Linked DNA regions of Homo sapiens. The protein of the gene in region 1 purifies or fractionates together with the protein of each later gene. This does not show direct contact. Each region holds a gene or a part of one and is shown on either strand. Other genes may lie near its edges.

Region 1 (4,839 bases):
TTCTACTGGAAATCTATTAGGCATCTCAAACCTAAGTGCAAACCATAAATTTTTATTCTTTTTCCCCCTTCAGGCCAAAAACCCGAGTCACCCTTGTCATCTCTTTGCCTTCCAATCCCTGGGCCAAAGTTATGTTGGCTGTACCTTTAGTACACAGAGTCCTACCACTAGCCACTACTGCTGCTGCTACCACCCTAGGCTAAGCCACCAACACTCGATGTGAAGACTTCTGAGTTGCTATTAAATCTTCTGAGTTGCTTCTCCTAAATCTATTTTCACCCAGGTTCCCTATAATATTGTATACACAGTATCCAGAGTGACCTTTATGTCAGACCATGGCTCAAACCCCTCAATGGCTTCCCAAGTTTCCTACCATGGCTTCCAAGAGTCCCCAGTTCCCAGCCCCTTGTACACTGTGCTCTAATGCCCTGCTTTAGTCAACCTGCCAAGCTTGTTCCCTCCTCCCTCCCTCAAATCTTTGCCTGCCTTATTTCTGCTCTTAGCTCTAAGGATTACTTCCTTAGGGACACCTTTTTAAATTACCATAAATAAAAGACTTGCCACCCCCCCTTCCATTCATTTCCAGCCCTTTACTCAGTTTTCCTTTCACTTTAGCAATTTACCTGACATTTTATGTATCTGACTCCTCCACTAGAATGTATCGTCCACAAGCAGGGATATTTCCTTTTTACACCACAACTGCTTAAAACGGTGCCTGGCACATTAATTAGCACTCAGATGTTGAGTATTCAGGCACTGGTGGTGGAGCCACTGGGGGCAGGAGATACTCTCATGTGTGTATAAGCATCTGTATCTGCTTCAGATTTGCATAAATCTGGATGTAGATAATCCACAGCAGCTTTCAATAAGTTGAAAACTGTGAAATGTGGCAGTGGTTCCAAAACATTTCCATATATTATAATGGGGATCTTTTAAAAATTCTAATGCTTAAGCCACATTCCAAATGAATTTAGATCACAATTGCTGAGGGTGGGGCACAGATATCAGTATTTGTTGAAACTCCCAGGTAATTCCAACGTTAAGTTTGGGAACCACTGGTGTATACAGTATGAGTTGGTAACCATGATATGAGATCCAGAATACTCAACAAAAGAAATTCCAGTCCTAATGCTACGCATGCTTAAGACTTCTATTTCCAAGATGTGTAGAAAACAAAACAAAAAAGTCATAAAACTGTTTCAGATATTAGGTCTTAAAGAGAGCACACCTTCCAGGATTTTCCAGGTTCGTTTTCCCGTCAAGTCTAATCCAAACTTTGGCATTTCTATTAGGAAGTCGTTTCTTTTCTCCCATCTGCCAAGGCAGATTTACGTATGAAAAAGTGGTGACTTCTATGTAAGTCGCATCTGAAGGCTTTGGGGGTTTTGTCCATACTGATATTTTTAATGGTGTCAAGTAAAAAGCTCCATTCTGGTAACAAGGTTGTAATCACTAAAACAAAATGCCATATTCTCAAAAGGATTTCCTTACAACTCAGCTAAGTTATGGTGATGAGAAAGGATTTGCTAAATTCTTAATCATGCTGTCTAACATTTCTCACTCAAAAGGTAATAGAATCAACTAGCTCTAGTCATGAATCCAAATATTCTTAGGACAGAAGCTAACAAATATTGCACATTTACCCATCTCCAAACTCACCTTTAAACTATCTTTATACCTCAGAATGAAGGACAAAATTAATGAAAAGAGAAGTCATGTCATTATTAAAATCCTCACTATAGTGCAAATAGTAGAAATTTCCAAGGAATCTCGGAGATATTTAAGCCAACTCATTTTACAGGTGAATGACCTGACACCCAGACAAGGTGAAATGACATGCCTAAAAGTCACACAGGAGAGCTAGAAGAGAAAAAAAGCATTTTTTTTTCCCAAAACAAGCAGACAGGATTTTTCATGTTAATCAAAAAGAATCAAGATCATCAGATTAGGAAGAAATGAGGAATAAAACATACGTTACACACAGATTTAAAGAACTAGTCAATCTGCTGCCCCCAAAACCAAAACCTTCTCTAAACATATGGACATATATCCATCAAGATGCTTACCCTTCAAATATCAGAATCTTGGAAAATTCAATTTACAAATACATTAATTGCATTATGATGATGAAATAAGTTAATTAAATGTGAAAACATCAAACAGCACCAATACTAGAAGTTAAGACAGTAAATACACTATTATTTAAAATAGTCACTGATTGGGACAGAAATGAACAATAACCACTAGCAAAACCATTTAAAACAACTCTCTGACATAAAGGCAATATTTAAAGACTACTATATGCCCCTTTCCACTGATAGGCCTGTGGCTACGCATCCTGGCAGCAGGTCACATGGAAAATACTATTAATTAAGATGTATTTTTAAATTGTTCAACCTTGAGCCGTGATACTATATAACCCAAAGTTTGCCAATGTAAGCCAATGTATATTTTTGGTATGCTAACTACTCTTACCTGTCCCAATTAAAAGAAAACACAAAACAACTCCCTTATTAAGCACTAGACTAAGTATATCTACAAAGCAGCAGCAAGGCATTGACAAATGGGCTACTGACAGTGGATCAAAATGCTACTAAGCAAAAGACAGCAGCACGTACTCTCATAAGAGCACATTATTCCACATGGAATCCCAAATTACTCTTATCTCCAGTTCCTTAAACTCCTAGAAGACTAGAGATGAACAAGCCAACGTATAAATAGGACTAGGGAAAAAGCAGCTCAAATGGCATAGTGTCTGTATTTTAAAGTACCCAAGATCATTTGATGCTTAAGAGAAATCCCACTACATCTAACATTTTTTTAAGCATGTATAACTAAAATGCTAGTGAAACTTTTGTGTTTACCCAAAAAATAACATTGCAGTTTTAAGTGAAAATGAAATAGGCATGGTTTGTGAAATTTTTATAATGTTTACACCACCCTCTTCCTGTTCCCTGCTCCTTTCATCAGGTGATCTGAAGACTACCTGGTTGGAAATATTTGGTAACTCAGTGCAGAAAATTAAGGTCACAGACAAAGTACAACAACTTTTAATACACCATTAATACTAATGATTAAAAATTATTGCATAGTCTTATGCATTTACCCTAAAACATTTTCTGAAAGCAAACGAATTATATAAAAGACAAATAACCCTTTAAAATGTGGATGGCCTTTACTACCTCGATCTTCTATCCTTTTTTGTCTTTTCAGTACTTTTGTCCATTGTTTTCTCATTATCTCCCCTGCACTTTGGGCAATACCATTTCCCCTTTGGTTTATAGGTAAGTGAAACACATGAAAAGTGAAACCATTCAATTGGACACTGTTCATTGTCACATCCTATCATCTCCCCATAAGACACTTGGTTGCATAAGCAGTATGTAGGTTCATTAGGATCTATTGCAAACTCAACAGGTGAAGCTTCCCTTTCCTGCTTGGCCTTGGAGCGTTTCTTTTTCTTTGCTGACTTGGATTTCTTTTCTTTAGGTGGCTGATCATCACAGTCTTCAATCCCATTTGCCATGTGACATAAATCACGGCTTTCACTGGTCCGCTGCCTGCGGGGTCTTCTTGAAGATCTTTCTGGTTGGCTGGAATCCATCTTTGCTTTATCTGAGGCTCGTTCACTTTCAGCAGGATCTTGGAAACACTGTGAGTGTAACTCCATTTGTCTTGCCCGATTTTCCACCAATTCGAGCATTTGTGTAACAATCTGTATTTTTTCATCTCCCAATTCTTGACTATTAATTAGTGCTCTCTGGAGAAGCTGCTGTAGACGTTTCTTCTGGTTTAAATCATCTTCTTTCTTATATTTTTCGTAGACATCATCAATTTCCTTTAACGTTTCTAAAAAAAGGAAAAGAAAAATGAGAACGTTATCATGTGTTAGCAGACACAACATTTCCAAGGTAGTTATTTTTTACAGAATTGAAATTAGAACTCAAACCATGAAACCATACTCCTCTTTGGTACATATACATTAAAAACTATTTCATACAAAGACCACATTATCTAATATGAAAGTATAGTTAGAAATAAAGTAATGAAAAGAAAGAACACAAAACTAATACTCATTAATCTATATTAAAAAGAGGCTGGGCGCGGTGGCTCACGCCTGTAATCCCAGCACTTTGGGAAGCCGAGGCAGGTGGATCACCTGAGGTCAGGAGTTCAAGACCAACCTGGCCAAGATAGTGAAACCCTGTCTCTACTAAAAATGCAAAAATTAGCCGGGCATGGTGGCAGGCGCCCCTCATCATTTCAGCTACTTGGGAGGCTGAGGCAGAGAACTGCTTGAACCCGGAAGGCGGAGGTTGCCGTGAGCCGAGATCGCACCGCTGCACTCCGGTCTGGGCGACAGAGCAAAACTCCATCTCAAAAAAAAAAAAAAAAAGGCCAGGCGCGGTGGCTCACGCTTGTAATCCCAGCACTTTGGGAGGCCGAGGCGGGTGGATCACGAGGTCAGGAGATCGAGACCACGGTGAAACCCCGTCTCTACTAAAAATACAAAAAAAATTAGCCGGGCGCAGTGGCGGGCGCCTGTAGTCCCAGCTACTCAGGAGGCTGAGGCAGGAGAATGGCGAGAACCCTGGAGGCGGAGCTTGCAGTGAGCCGAGATCGCGCCACTGCACTCCAGCCTGGGAGACAGAGCAAGACTCCGTCTCAAAAAAAAAAAAAAAGGATAAGAGATGTTTGGCTAATTAATGATCAAAAGTATTTCTCATGGGCAGGAACACTGAATGCCACTTTAGTCTACTAAGTACTGTAACACCTTCAAAACAACCCTATATATAAAATGTGCAGGCTGGGGTCCAGCTCTAAAACTTGAAAAGGTTA
Region 2 (3,590 bases), on another chromosome or scaffold:
ACAGTTCTACGATGTGAAGAAAGGAAAAGCTAGTGTAGCTCAAGAAGCTAGACAGTGCCCAACTACAGAAGTAATGAAAAGGACAGACCAGGGAAGGCTCCTGCGTGGGTCAAAGAGGGAAAGAACTGTGCCTAGTCTACAAGACACAGAAATAAAATACAGAATACACTTTTTGTAACAGTGAAACAAGTATCAAAACAGGAAAAATCTGCAATCCATCCAAAAATCATTTGTCCCCTCCTAATCCCTCCATCTTTCTGTACTTAGGAGTTTTCTTGTACATGTAAATGGTGACAAGAGTGGGAGGCTTAATTGCTTCTTCAAGTTGGATCAAAACAGTGCATAGCTCAACTGTTGCATTCTCCGCCACTAGGTTTACAAAGCAAATAACACATTAGTTATTTTCATCAGAGGAAGTCTCTCACTGTTTCCTTTTTTCGTTTTTTTTTGTTTGTTTGTTTTTTGAGACAAAGTCTCGCTCTGTCTGTCGCCCAGGCTGGAGTGCAGTGGCTCGATCTTGGCTCACTAAAAGTTCTGCCTCCTGAGTTCACGCCATTCTCCTGCCTCAGCCCCCCCAGTAGCTGGGACTATAAGCGCCCGCCACCACGCCCGGCTAATTTTTTTGTATTTTTAGTAGAGATGGGGTTTCACCATGTTAGCCAGGATGGTCTCGATCTCCTGACCTCATGATCCGCCCATCTCAGCCTCCCAAAATGCCGGGATTACAGGTGTGAGCCACCGCGCCCAGCCTGTTTGTTTTTTTGAGACGGAGTCTCACTCTGTCGCCCAGGCTGGAGTGCAGTGGTGCGATCTCGGCTCACTGCAAGCTCCGCCTTCCAGGTTCACGCCATTCTCCTGCCTCAGCCTCCTTTTTTTTTTTTTTCCTTTGAGATGGGGGTCTTGCTCTGTTGCCCAGGCTGGACTGCAGCAGTGCAATCTCAGCTCACTGCAACCTTTGCCTCCTGGGTTCAAGCAATTTTCCTGTCTCAGCCTCCTGAGTATCTGGGATTACAGGCATGCGCCACCATGTCCGGCTAATGTTTCTATTTTTAGTAGAGATGGGGTTTCGTCATGTTGGCCAGTCTGGTCTCGAACTCCTGACCTCAGGTGATCTGCCTGCCTTGGCTTCCCTAAGTGCTGGAATTACAGGCGTGAGCAATTGCGCCCGGCCTCTCTGTTATAAATTAGTGTTCATAAATTAATATTTTTAAATACATGCACAGATTTAAAAAATTCATTCAGTACAGGGGTAATAGGATAGAAAAGCAAATCTCACTCTCATCCAGGAACCTCCTAATCACCCAAATTCCCTTCCCCATTGCTACCAGTTGATTCATATTCATTACAACTCTAGAAAAAAGGCTGGCAAAAAAACTACCCCAGGGGCAAATCTGGCTTACTTGTCTTTGGAAAGAAAAATTGTACTGGAACACAGCCATGCCTATTTGTTTACATATTGCCTATGGGAGTTTTCACACTTACCATGGCAGAGATAAGTAGTTTCTACAGAGACCACATGGCCCACAAAGCCTAACATATTTATTGTCTCTTTACAGAAAATGTTTGCAACCCCTGTTCTACAGGAATTTTATCTCTAGAATCTAGAGATATGATATGCAAATTTAAAATATATAGATATAGCAACACCTTTAAAAACATAAGTGGAGGCCGGGCACGGTGGCTCACACCTGTAATCCCAGCACTTTGGGAGGACTAGGTGGGCGGATCACAAGGTCAGGAGATCGAGACCATCCTGGCTAACACAATGAAACTCAGTCTCTACTAAAAATACAAAAAATTAGCCAGATGTGGTGGTGGGCGCCTGTAGTCCCAGCTACTAGAGAGGCTGAGGCAGGAGAATGGCGTGAACCCGGGAGGCGGAGCTTGCAGTGAGCCAAGATTGCACCACTACACTCCAGCCTGGATGACAGAGAGATACTCTGTCTCAAAAATTAATAATAATATTACAAAAATTAGCTGGGCATGGCGGCACGCACCTGTAGTCCTAGCTACCCGGGAGGCTGAGGCAGGAGAATCGCTTGAACCGGAAGGCAGAGGTTGCAGTGAGCCAAGATCGCGCCACTGCACTCCAGCCTGGTGACTGACCGAGACTCCGTCTCAAAAAAAAAAAAAAAAAAAAAAAACCACACACACACAAGTGGAAGCATAGTTCAGTGTCTGACTTTTTTTTAAACAATATATTTTAAGAGATTGTTCCATATCAGTACATACAGATCCTTTTCTTTTCAAAGTTGAGTAATATTCTACTATATTACAACTCATAACTTATATATTTCACTACACTGTTCCTGCATTGGTTTTAGTTTTAATTTTTTTGGTAAGAATGATACCTTATTTGGGCCAGTCGCAGTGGCTCATGCCTGTAATCCCAGCACTTTGGGAGACTGAAGCAGGCGGATCACGAAGTCAAGAGATCGAGCCATCCTGCATCCTGGCCAACATGGTGAAACCCCATCTCTACTAAAAATAAAAAATTAGCTGGGCGTGGCAGCACGCTTGTAATCCCAGCCACTCGGGAGACTGAGGCAGGATAATCGCTTGAACTCAGGAGGCGGAGGTTGTAGTGAGCTGAGATCGCGCCACTGCACTCCAGCCTGGGCGACAGAGCAAAACTCCATCTCCAAAAAAAAAGAATGATACCTTATTTGATTTGCATTTCTTTGGTAACCAGGATAAGCATTTTCCTATGGATTTTTCTTAAAATAGTATTTAGGAACCGACTTTTAATGCTAACCCAGTAGAGAGGCTCTATTTAGCAAAATCATTCATTATAAAGAATTTGTGGTGACTATATTTACAAAACATTGTTTAGAAGGAGTTTCTGGATAGATGTCTTTTTTTTTTTGAGACAGAGTTTAGCTCTTGTTGCCCAGGCTGGAGTGCAATGGCATGATCTCCGTTCACTGCAACATCTGCCTCCTGGGTTTAAGCAATTCTCCTGCGTCGGCCTCCCAAGTAGCTGGGATTACAGGCACCCGCCACCGCGCACAGCTAATTTTTTGTATTTTTTAGTAGAGACGGGGTTTCACTATGTTGGCCAAGCTGGTCTCGACCTCCTGACCTCAGGCAATCCACCCACCGCAGCCTCCCAAAGTGCTGGGATTACAGGCATGAGCCACTGTGCCCGGCCTCCTCCCAGATTTTAATTTATCTCACTTCCTCATGTCATTCAGGTATCAACAAAAATATACTGACCATTTGTAATCTAAAGTAACCCATCCAATCACTACCTTAACATCATTTTCTTCATAGTGCTTTCAATATCTGAAATTATCTTATTAGGATGTTTTTGGTAGAGTATAAACTCTATGAAAGTGAATATTATGATCTGAAATAATTTTTTTATTTGAGATAATTTCACTTTAGAGATGAGGAAAATAAGATAAAGAAATTAAAGAATTTGCCTGAAAATAGACAAAGTCATGGCAGTCTAACTGCAGAGTGAGAAATTCTGGTTTATGTTTAAATAAAGTAAAAATACTGGCAGGGCACTCTTGGCTCACGCCTGTAATCTTAGCACTTTGGGAGGCCAAGACAGGTAGATCACCTGAGGTCAGGAGTTAGAGACC

Evidence for each region. The genes of interacting proteins can lie anywhere in the genome.
Region 2: the proteins of ING2 (region 1) and ARID4B purify together in Homo sapiens (affinity purification with mass spectrometry; 3 studies listed by BioGRID and IntAct, with this or other methods). This does not show direct contact.

Annotation. Positions count from the first base shown.
Region 1 is NC_000004.12:183,509,292-183,514,130, reverse strand, and holds the end of ING2 (inhibitor of growth protein 2), read right to left. Parts: intron 3,850-4,839; coding exon 3,179-3,849; 3' UTR 1,702-3,178; downstream 1-1,701. UniProt on the Homo sapiens protein: Seems to be involved in p53/TP53 activation and p53/TP53-dependent apoptotic pathways, probably by enhancing acetylation of p53/TP53. Component of a mSin3A-like corepressor complex, which is probably involved in deacetylation of nucleosomal histones.
Region 2 is NC_000001.11:235,168,791-235,172,380, forward strand, and holds part of ARID4B (AT-rich interactive domain-containing protein 4B), read right to left. Parts: intron 1-3,590. UniProt on the Homo sapiens protein: Acts as a transcriptional repressor. May function in the assembly and/or enzymatic activity of the Sin3A corepressor complex or in mediating interactions between the complex and other regulatory complexes.